2 separate regions of the Homo sapiens genome follow, and region 1 is linked to region 2. The links come from fine-mapping of genetic effects on gene expression. Tissue or cell type: visceral fat. Region 2 holds a variant in brackets; the other region holds the start of a gene. All regions are shown on one strand. Distances are between the middles of the regions.

Evidence for each region. PIP is the estimated chance that this variant, and not a neighbour inherited with it, causes the effect. A credible set is the group of variants that fine-mapping cannot tell apart.
Region 1: it holds the start of SLC22A12, and the variant in region 2 is the best candidate, but not a certain one, in a credible set for the expression of SLC22A12 in visceral fat (GTEx, PIP 0.79).

What each region holds. Positions count from the first base shown.
Region 1 is chr11:64,588,929-64,593,132 of GRCh38, reverse strand. It overlaps SLC22A12 (solute carrier family 22 member 12), which reads right to left and starts at 1,913. Exons shown (of 10, transcript NM_144585.4): 1 at 1,175-1,913; 2 at 251-354. The coding sequence starts at 1,576.
Region 2 is chr11:64,699,578-64,703,781 of GRCh38, reverse strand. The region is part of intron 2 of NRXN2 (neurexin 2); the gene reads left to right. Among named protein-coding and RNA genes, the nearest start is that of NRXN2, 22 kb to the left of the region's middle. The variant C/G (reference allele first, on the strand shown) is at 1,826.

The DNA.
Region 1 (4,204 bases), 110 kb after region 2:
GAATGTTTGCTGGGGAGCAGAAATCCTCTACAACCCCCAGAGTAAAGTTGGTGAACTCGAGGTTCAGAGAAGGTTCCAGACCTCCCTACCTGGCACGGCTGCAGGGTGGCTGGTCCGAGACCCACACCCAGCAAGTAGGGCGCTTTCTAGACTTGGTTTTGTGAGGCTGGTTTGGGGCCAGTCGGCCAGGGTCCTAGGAGAGCAGGGGTTGTGAGGGGAACTGGGACCTGCCTGGACTGGGGGTACTCACCTGTCTGAGGCAGGGCCGCACGCAGCAGCTCCCACCAGAATCCCAGCCAGGTAGATGGACTGGGCCATGGGCTTCAGAGCATGAGAGTCACACACGAGGTTCCACTGATGGGAGAGGAGGAGGCTGAGCTCAGGAGGTTGGGAGAGCCCCAGCAGAGAGGCAGAGGAACCGCATGGGAGGGCCCCCAGGGAGCTGGGTGCGGTGGGTGGTCTGGTGACCTCTAGGGTTTTAGAGCAAGACCCTGTGGAACAGTGAGGGCACCCACAGGCATAGTTTGGCCTTTTGAGGAGTATATCCTGCCACCCTCTGCCTGAACTCTTCCATGGCTCCCTATTGCCCAATGGGTCTCTAGCCACATCTGCCCCTCTCTCCTGTCTCTCCACTTGGAAGCAGCCACCCAAGCTGACACCCTCACCCCTCTCCCAGAGGTTGCTTCCCTCCTGTTCTTTATAAAGAGGTTCTTCCCACTTGTTGGGATGAGCTGCCCCTCTCTGCTTGCCTGGCTTTGCCTGGCGCCCCATCTGGGAGGCAGCCTGGGGTAATCCCTTACTCTGTGTGCTTTGGTCTCGGGGAATCCAGTGAATTGTCACTGAGTCCCCCTGCTGCTGAGTTGCCTGGAGTCACGGCTGACAGGTCAGCAGGGCCAGGACAGGGTGAGGCCGGTGAGTGTCCAGGTGCCAGCATTTAGAGGTGCCCGCCCAGGTGCCCCCCGCACCTCCAAGAGCCTGGGCTGGCCCCATTTGTAGACTGATCCCTGCCGCCCACTTCCCTGTGTGTGGCTGACGAGGGGCTGAGAGGCTCGAGAGTGAGTGGGGCCTGGGGAGGTGGGTCCCTCCCAGGACTGGACCTTTGAGTCTGACCCACCGTGATCCATGACTGACCTCCAAGGTGGTGGGACTCGAGTGGCTCTGGGGGAGGCCCTACCTTGGCCACGATTGTGGAGGTGAAGATGCTGCGGTCATAGACCCAGCCATCCACACACGGCTCCGTGTCGGCCTCGCTCCAGCTGGTGGCCGTGGCATTGGGGTCCAAGAGCTGCCACTGTGGCTGGCGGAAGCGGCGGCACTGGTGGGGCCTCTGGTTGGGGCCCGGCGGGATGGAAATAGCCAGGAGGGCCTCAGGACTCAAGCTCCCTAGGATGCTGGCCTGAGCCGTGCTGTTGTCCAGGAGGGGTGCCCAGCAGCGGTGGCTGGGCACGGCGGCCGAGAAGTTCTCCAGCATGCTCTGGGTACACAGCCACATGATGGAGACCATCAGAGCCATCGTCTGGAGAACCTGGAACCTGCCCAGGCCACCCACGAGGTCCAGGAGTTCAGAAAATGCCATGGAACCTACTCAAGGGGCCCAGAAGAGGGGCCCACTTCACAAAGGCTGGCCCAGGGCAAAGAGGCCAGGGCAACGGGCCTGTTTCCCCCACGGTGGTGCCCACAGTGGCTTCTCCAGCCCAGCGGCTAGGCTTCACAGACTCGGGGCCGGAGGCTCAGGCTCTCTGGTCATCTGCCTGCTGGTGTCACTTGGGGTGGCTCCAACTGGGCCCTGAGGCCGCGTGAGGTGATTCCGAGACCTCCAGCATCTCCCCAGAGAGGCAGCTGCTCCAGACCTCCCGGGAAAGCTGAATTTGGAAAGTAGGGAATGTGGAGACTGAAGACTTTAATTTTAGACTGGAATTAAAGTGTGACCGGTGACACTTATGGAATCGAGTTTAGCAATCATTTCCTTGGTCAAAGTTTAACCCGCGTTGAGGCAGGCACAGACGCGAGGGAGGTGCAGCCTCCTCTGCTTGGGGGCCAGGGCCGGCCTGCTCTGTGCCAGGTCTTGGGGAGGCCTAAGTTTTTCTCCTGGCGGCTGTGGGATGCCAGGGCTGCCTGCTCCCTTCGGTGCCCCTGTGTGCCCACCTCCCAGAGTGGCTGAGCCAAGAGAAGGTGGGCCAGGGGATCCCCCTAATTTGGGGCTGGGGCAGCTGTGCAAGTCTCTGTGTGGGCTTGGGTCACTGGCAGCTGCCCAGCCCCTGCGCCTCCCAGGCTGTGTGGCCTGGCCCCACCCGTGGCTCCTGCCTCCACTCACCTGCTGTGGTTGGCGTCCTGTGCCCGCTTTGCTGTTACCCTGTCCTGAGTCCTCGGTGGAGCTTCCCAGCATCAACAGACACCCCACAGACTCCCCAGGTTCGGTGTGCCCAATGCCACCCTGAGATCTCTGTCCCCTCCCCAAATCTATGCCTCCTGCAGAGCCCCACCTCAGCTATGGCCTCTCATGTCACAGTGTCTGGCCTGGAACCCAGCGTCTTGGTTCACGCCTCCTGCTCCCTGCCTCCCAAATCCACCAGGGGCCAAGCCTGGCTAGTTTTGCCTCCTAAGGATTTCTCTCTCCCACCTCCCCCACTCCACAGCTGTCCCTGCCCTTGTCTTTCTGCCTCAACTCCTGCCCCTGGACCCACCACGCACTGCGAGCCCTTGGGTCAAATCCTGCTTAAAAGCCAAGGGGCTCCCAGTCAACAACAGCTAGTGGTGACTTACTAGGGCAGGTGAGTGGACAGCAGTGTGTGCTGATGCAGGGTGTGGGGTTCAGGAAAGGCTGGACCGAGGCCAAGAGAACCCCCTTGGTCTCGATAGCTAATTCTGTAGGCGAAAGGGCCAGAGAACACAAAGCAGTTAAAAAGTGTGTGTGCATGGCCGGGCGTGGTGGCTCATGCCTGTAATCCCAGCACTTTGGGAGGCCGAGGTGGGGGGATCACTTGAGGTCAAGAGTTCAAGACCAGCTTGGCCAACATGGCAAAAACCCATCTCTACTAAAAATACAAAAGTTAGCTGAGCATGGTCGTGGTGCACAGCTGTAATTCCAGCTACTTGGGAGGCTGAGGCAGGAGAATCTCTTGAACCCAGGAGGCAGAGGTTGCAGCAAGCTGAGATTGCACCACTGCCCTCCAGCCTGGTTGACAGAGAAAGACTCTTATCTCAAAAAAAAAAAAAAAAAGAAAAGAAAAAAAAGAAGTGTATGTATATGTGGGTGTGTGCACATGTCTGTGTATGTGTGCACATGTGTTTGCACAAGTGCATGTGTGTACATGTGTGCATGCGTATATGTGCAGTGCAGCAGTGATGGCAACCCAGGTGTTTGCTCTTATGAGCTTTGGGCATAAAACTCTCCATTTGAGGCATAAATGCCCCTCCCATCTGCTTCTTTTTGCTTCACCGACTCTTCCCGCTGCCCCTCCACATGGCTTACCAAGCCAACTTCTTTGCCTCCCTGGGCTCTGCACCTTGAGTCATCCACTGCTTCCACCACATGCCCTGTACATGCTTTCTCAGTTCCCACCCTTGCTTATGTTGGACCTCCAGCCTGGAATGCTGTCTCCAGGCTCACCCTTAGGCCACATACTGTGTGGAATGGGCACAGTCCAAATACTCCTCCTCCAGCGGGCTCTCTTCACTTATTCCTGCCTACAACTAGGGCTCAGAGTTGTCAGTGGAATCTCATCTTTACACTGTCCTGCATTCTTCTCAAACTCCTGACCTCAGGTGATCTGCCTGCCTTGGCCTCCCAAAGTGGTGTGAGTTGCGGCACCCAGCCATGACCTGCATTCTTCTATTATGGTCCAGTTGGTCTTATTTCCAGTGAGCTCCTGGTAGTCTGGAACCCTTCTTTAGAGGCTCTTTGGAACTGATTTGGACAACAAATAAAGGTTCCATGGAGACTTGCTGAAGTGCATGGATGATTTTTTTAAAAATTTCATTTATTTTCTAATTATGAAATAATTTACACACTTCCTCAAAAATTCAGAACATATTGAAATGAAAATAAAGATCCCTCATATACTCATCAACCAGTGAGTTACACTACTGTTTACAGTTTGGTGTAAATATGTGCAGACTTTGTTTTAGTAACTGATATGTTTAGCTTCATCAGCTTGAGCTGCCAAATAAGCTTTACATTTCCTTTTGTAAAATCCAAAAGAAA
Region 2 (4,204 bases):
TTAGCTCTAGTGGTCAGGGAAGGCTTCAAGGAGGAGGTGGGACTTGGCCAGACCTTGAAGAAGGATGACTGAGTGTGAGTTATAGAGGTGGAAAGGAAAGGGCAGGGCTTTCCCACCAGGAGAGTAGCCTACATGAGGAATACAGGGGATGTGAATTGAGTGGGTCAGGACATGATGAAGAGACAAAGTTGGTTGTGTTTTATGGTAGATAAGATCAGAACCTTAGATTAGAATCAGTTTCTAGAAGTCTTGACTTCCAGGCTAAGCACGTAGCCCACTGGAAGTTTTCACCAGACAGATTTGGGTTCAAATTTTGACTGTCACTAACTAGCAGTGTGACCTTGGCCAAGTTACTCCTACTTTCTGAGTCTTGGTTTCTTCAGCTCTAAAAGGGAGTGATAGTAATATCCATTCACAATGTAGCAGTGGCGGGTAAAGGAACAATGGGCGTAAAGAGCCAGGCACACCCTAAGTGCTCAGTATATGCAAAGTGTTATTTTTATTATTCACTCAACAAACAGGAGAATGCCTTTTTTTCTGAGCCAGGAGCCATGTAAGCAGCTGGATATAGAGAGATGAATGAGGCATTGTCCTCACTTTTGGATATTTCACAGTCAAGTCAGGAAACAGACATGTTAACACAGATGCAATAGAGATTCAATAAGATAATTAATAATAGAATGTACATTTCTAGAGTTGGCACAAAAGAGGAAGGCTAGCTCTCCTTTGTTTAGAACAGAGACAAATGTGTATTGACCTGGATCTTTTTTTTTTAATTCTTTCTTTCTTTTTTTTTTTTTTTTTTTTTTTAGAGACCTGGGCTGAAGTGCAGTGGTGTGATCATAGCTCACTGTAACCTCAAACTCCTGGGCTCAAATGATCCTCTATTTCAACCTCCTGAGTAGCTGGGACTACAGGCGCACACCACCATGTCTGGCTAATTTATTTATTTTTCTTTTTTTTTTTTTCTAATTTTTTTTTTTTATTGATCATTCTTGGGTGTTTCTCGCAGAGGGGGATTTGGCAGGGTCACAGGACAATAGTGGAGGGAAGGTCAGCAGATAAACAAGTGAACAAAGGTCTCTGGTTTTCCTAGGCAGAGGACCCTGCGGCCTTCCGCAGTGTTTGTGTCCCTGGGTACTTGAGATTAGGGAGTGGTGATGACTCCCAAGGAGCATGCTGCCTTCAGGCATCTGTTTAACAAAGCACATCTTGCACCGCCCTTAATCCATTCAACCCTGAGTGGATACAGCACATGTTTCAGAGAGCACAGGGTTGGGGGTAAGGTCACCGATCAACAGGATCCCAAGGCAGAAGAATTTTTCTTAGTACAGAACAAAATGAAAAGTCTCCCATGTCTACCTCTTTCTACACAGACACGGCAACCATCCGATTTCTCAATCTTTTCCCCACCTTTCCCCCCTTTCTATTCTACAAAACCGCCATTGTCATCATGGCCCGTTCTCAATGAGCTGTTGGGTACACCTCCCAGACGGGTGGTGGCCGGGCAGAGGGGCTCCTCACTTCCCAGTAGGGGCGGCCGGGCAGAGGCGCCCCTCACCTCCCGGACGGGGCGGCTGGCCCGGCGGGGGGCTGACCCCTCCACCTCCCTCCCGGACGGGGCGGCTGGCCGGGTGGGGGGCTGACCCCCCCACCTACCTCCCGGACGGGCGGCTGGCCGGGCAGAGGGGCTCCTCACTTCCCAGTAGGGGCGGCAGGGCAGAGGCACCCCTCACCTCCCGGACGGGGCGGCTGGCCAGGCGGGGGGCTGACCCCCCCCACCTCCCTCCCGGACGGGGCAGCTGGCCGGGCGGGGGGCTGACCC[C/G]CCCACCTCCCTCCTGGACGGGGCGGCTGGCCGGGCGGGGGGCTGACCCCCCCCACCTCCCTCCCGGACAGAGCGGCTGGCCGGGCAGAGGGGCTCCTCACTTCCCAGTAGGGGCGGCCGGGCAGAGGCGCCCCTCACCTGCCGGACGGGGCGGCTGGCCGGACGGGGGGCTGATCCCCCCACTTCCCCCCCGGACGGGGCTTATTTATTTCTTTTTTTTAGGCAAAGTCTTCTCCGTCGTCCAGGCTGGAGTGCAGTGGTGTCATCATGGCTCACTGCAGCCTTGACCACCCAGGCTCAAGTGATTCTCCCACCTCAGTCTCCCAAGTAGCTGGGAGTACTGACACGAGCCATTACATCTGGCTAATTTTTGCGTTTGTTTGTAGAGACGGGTCTCCCTATGTTGCCCAGGCTGGTCTCAAACTCCTGGGCTCAAGTGATCCTCCCACCGTGGCTTCCCAAAGTGCTGGGATTATAGGCGCGAACCATTGTAGCTAGCCCTTGACTTGGGTCTTAAAGAAAGAGTAGATTTTCTTAGCCAGCTGTAGGTGAAGAGTATTTCAAGCACAAGAAATATTATGTGCAGAAACATAGCATATTATAGAAACAGGAAGAAGTTGGGGTGGCTGCAGCCTGGATTGTCGCAGGAAAAGAGGTTAGAGGAAGAAACAGTCAAATTTCGGATGGGATTTTCTGAGAAGATTCGACTTTAACCTACAGGCACTGAAAAGCTTTGAAGAGTTTTCAGCAGGGTCGTAACATGGTTGGAGTGGACCACTTTGTTGTGCTGCGGTGTATGAATTTCAGGGTGAAAAGAGTGGCGGTAGAGGGCATCATCTCCTAGGCTTATTAATGTTCCAAGGAGAGGGACTGATCAGGGCCTGGCCTCACCAGGGCCTGGCCTGGGCGGTGCCGGTGGAAATGGAGGGATGATAAGGATTTCTAGGAGTTTAGTTTTGTTTTTAGGGTTTTAGAAGGTGGAACCAGTAGGACCCGGTGATTGGCCTGACAAAAGGAGCAGGTGCTTTCTGGGTGCCTAACTTGATCAGGGAATTTGGTGGGGTGAGGAGAGGGTTATGAGGCCCACCCTAGACATATTGAATGTGAGAAGCCCATGAGACACTCAGAGACAGCGGCTCTAAAGACAGATGGGTACATAGGTCAAGAGCACAGGAGAGAGGTTTGTATCAGAAACACTGAAAGGTTCTCATCACAGCGGTATTTAGTAAGGCGTATCTGTTACCTCTGCCAAGAGGGTCAGGCTGGGGATGGGTAGGGAGACTGACCAAGAGGAAGCTATTGCAGGAAACCAGGCACAAGGAGTGAGGCCAGAGGCTACGATGACCTAGGATTGCAGTGGAGAAGGGCAAAAGTGATTCTGTGCTCCTGGGTGTGTTTTCTTCTCTGTACAGAGTCGATAGATAACACCGAGCTCTGTGTTGCAGTGAGGCTGATGTGTGATATTGCATGTGAGGGTCAGTACGGTGCCCAGCACATGGCTAACTAATGGAATCTCTGGAACCTATGAGGGCAGTGTGGGGCATGTAGTGGGAGCTCAGGCAGCACTGGTTGAAAGCAGGGGCTTTGCTAAGCACAGGGGAATAAGCACTTGGTTGTAGGAGTGGAGGTGTCGAGAATGGCTTCAGTGGTGGAGTTTAGATGTCAGAGAGTTGGACGAGCAATTGCACTGCTGGGTGGACACATGGTGATACAGGACTGGTACTCAGGGAGGAGGCCGGGACTACCCATGGTTTGGGAGTCTCTGAGCACGAAAATGAGCCATCACTGAGGAGAGCGAGGAGAAGTAAGAGGAATGTGGAGGGCAGGGGCCAACCCTGAAGGGGACTGAGGTGGCAGGTGAGGGGCATAGGTGAATCAGCAGAAAGCAAAGAGCAGCAGAGGAAGAGAGATATGTGAGTTTCTAGGTGCTGTCTCTCAAAAGCCAGAAACAAACCAAGCCTGGTTGTTTCACCTTCCTGAGCATAGCATGACGTACATTTCTGGCAGGTGGAAATACTTTTTGAAATACCTACCATGTTGGATTATCTAGAAATCACCATGCCTCCTTATTTGCACAGGTGCTGGTGAGACAATTGTGCTGACTGACCAGGGTCTTAGCATACTGGGACCAAAGAAATCCTGGCACAGCAGTCTTCACGAGAGCCAAAGGGTTTCCTGAGGGCCCCTTTATTAGCCAGCTCCCCCCATAAATGAAATGTGATTCAGTTTACTTAAGAAAACTATTGCTGGGCACTGTGGCTCATGCCTGTAATCCCAGCACTTTGGGAGGCCGAGGCGGGCAGATCACCTGAGGTTGGGAGTTCGAGACTAGCCTGACTAACATGGAGAAACCCCATCTCTACTGAAAATACAAAAAGT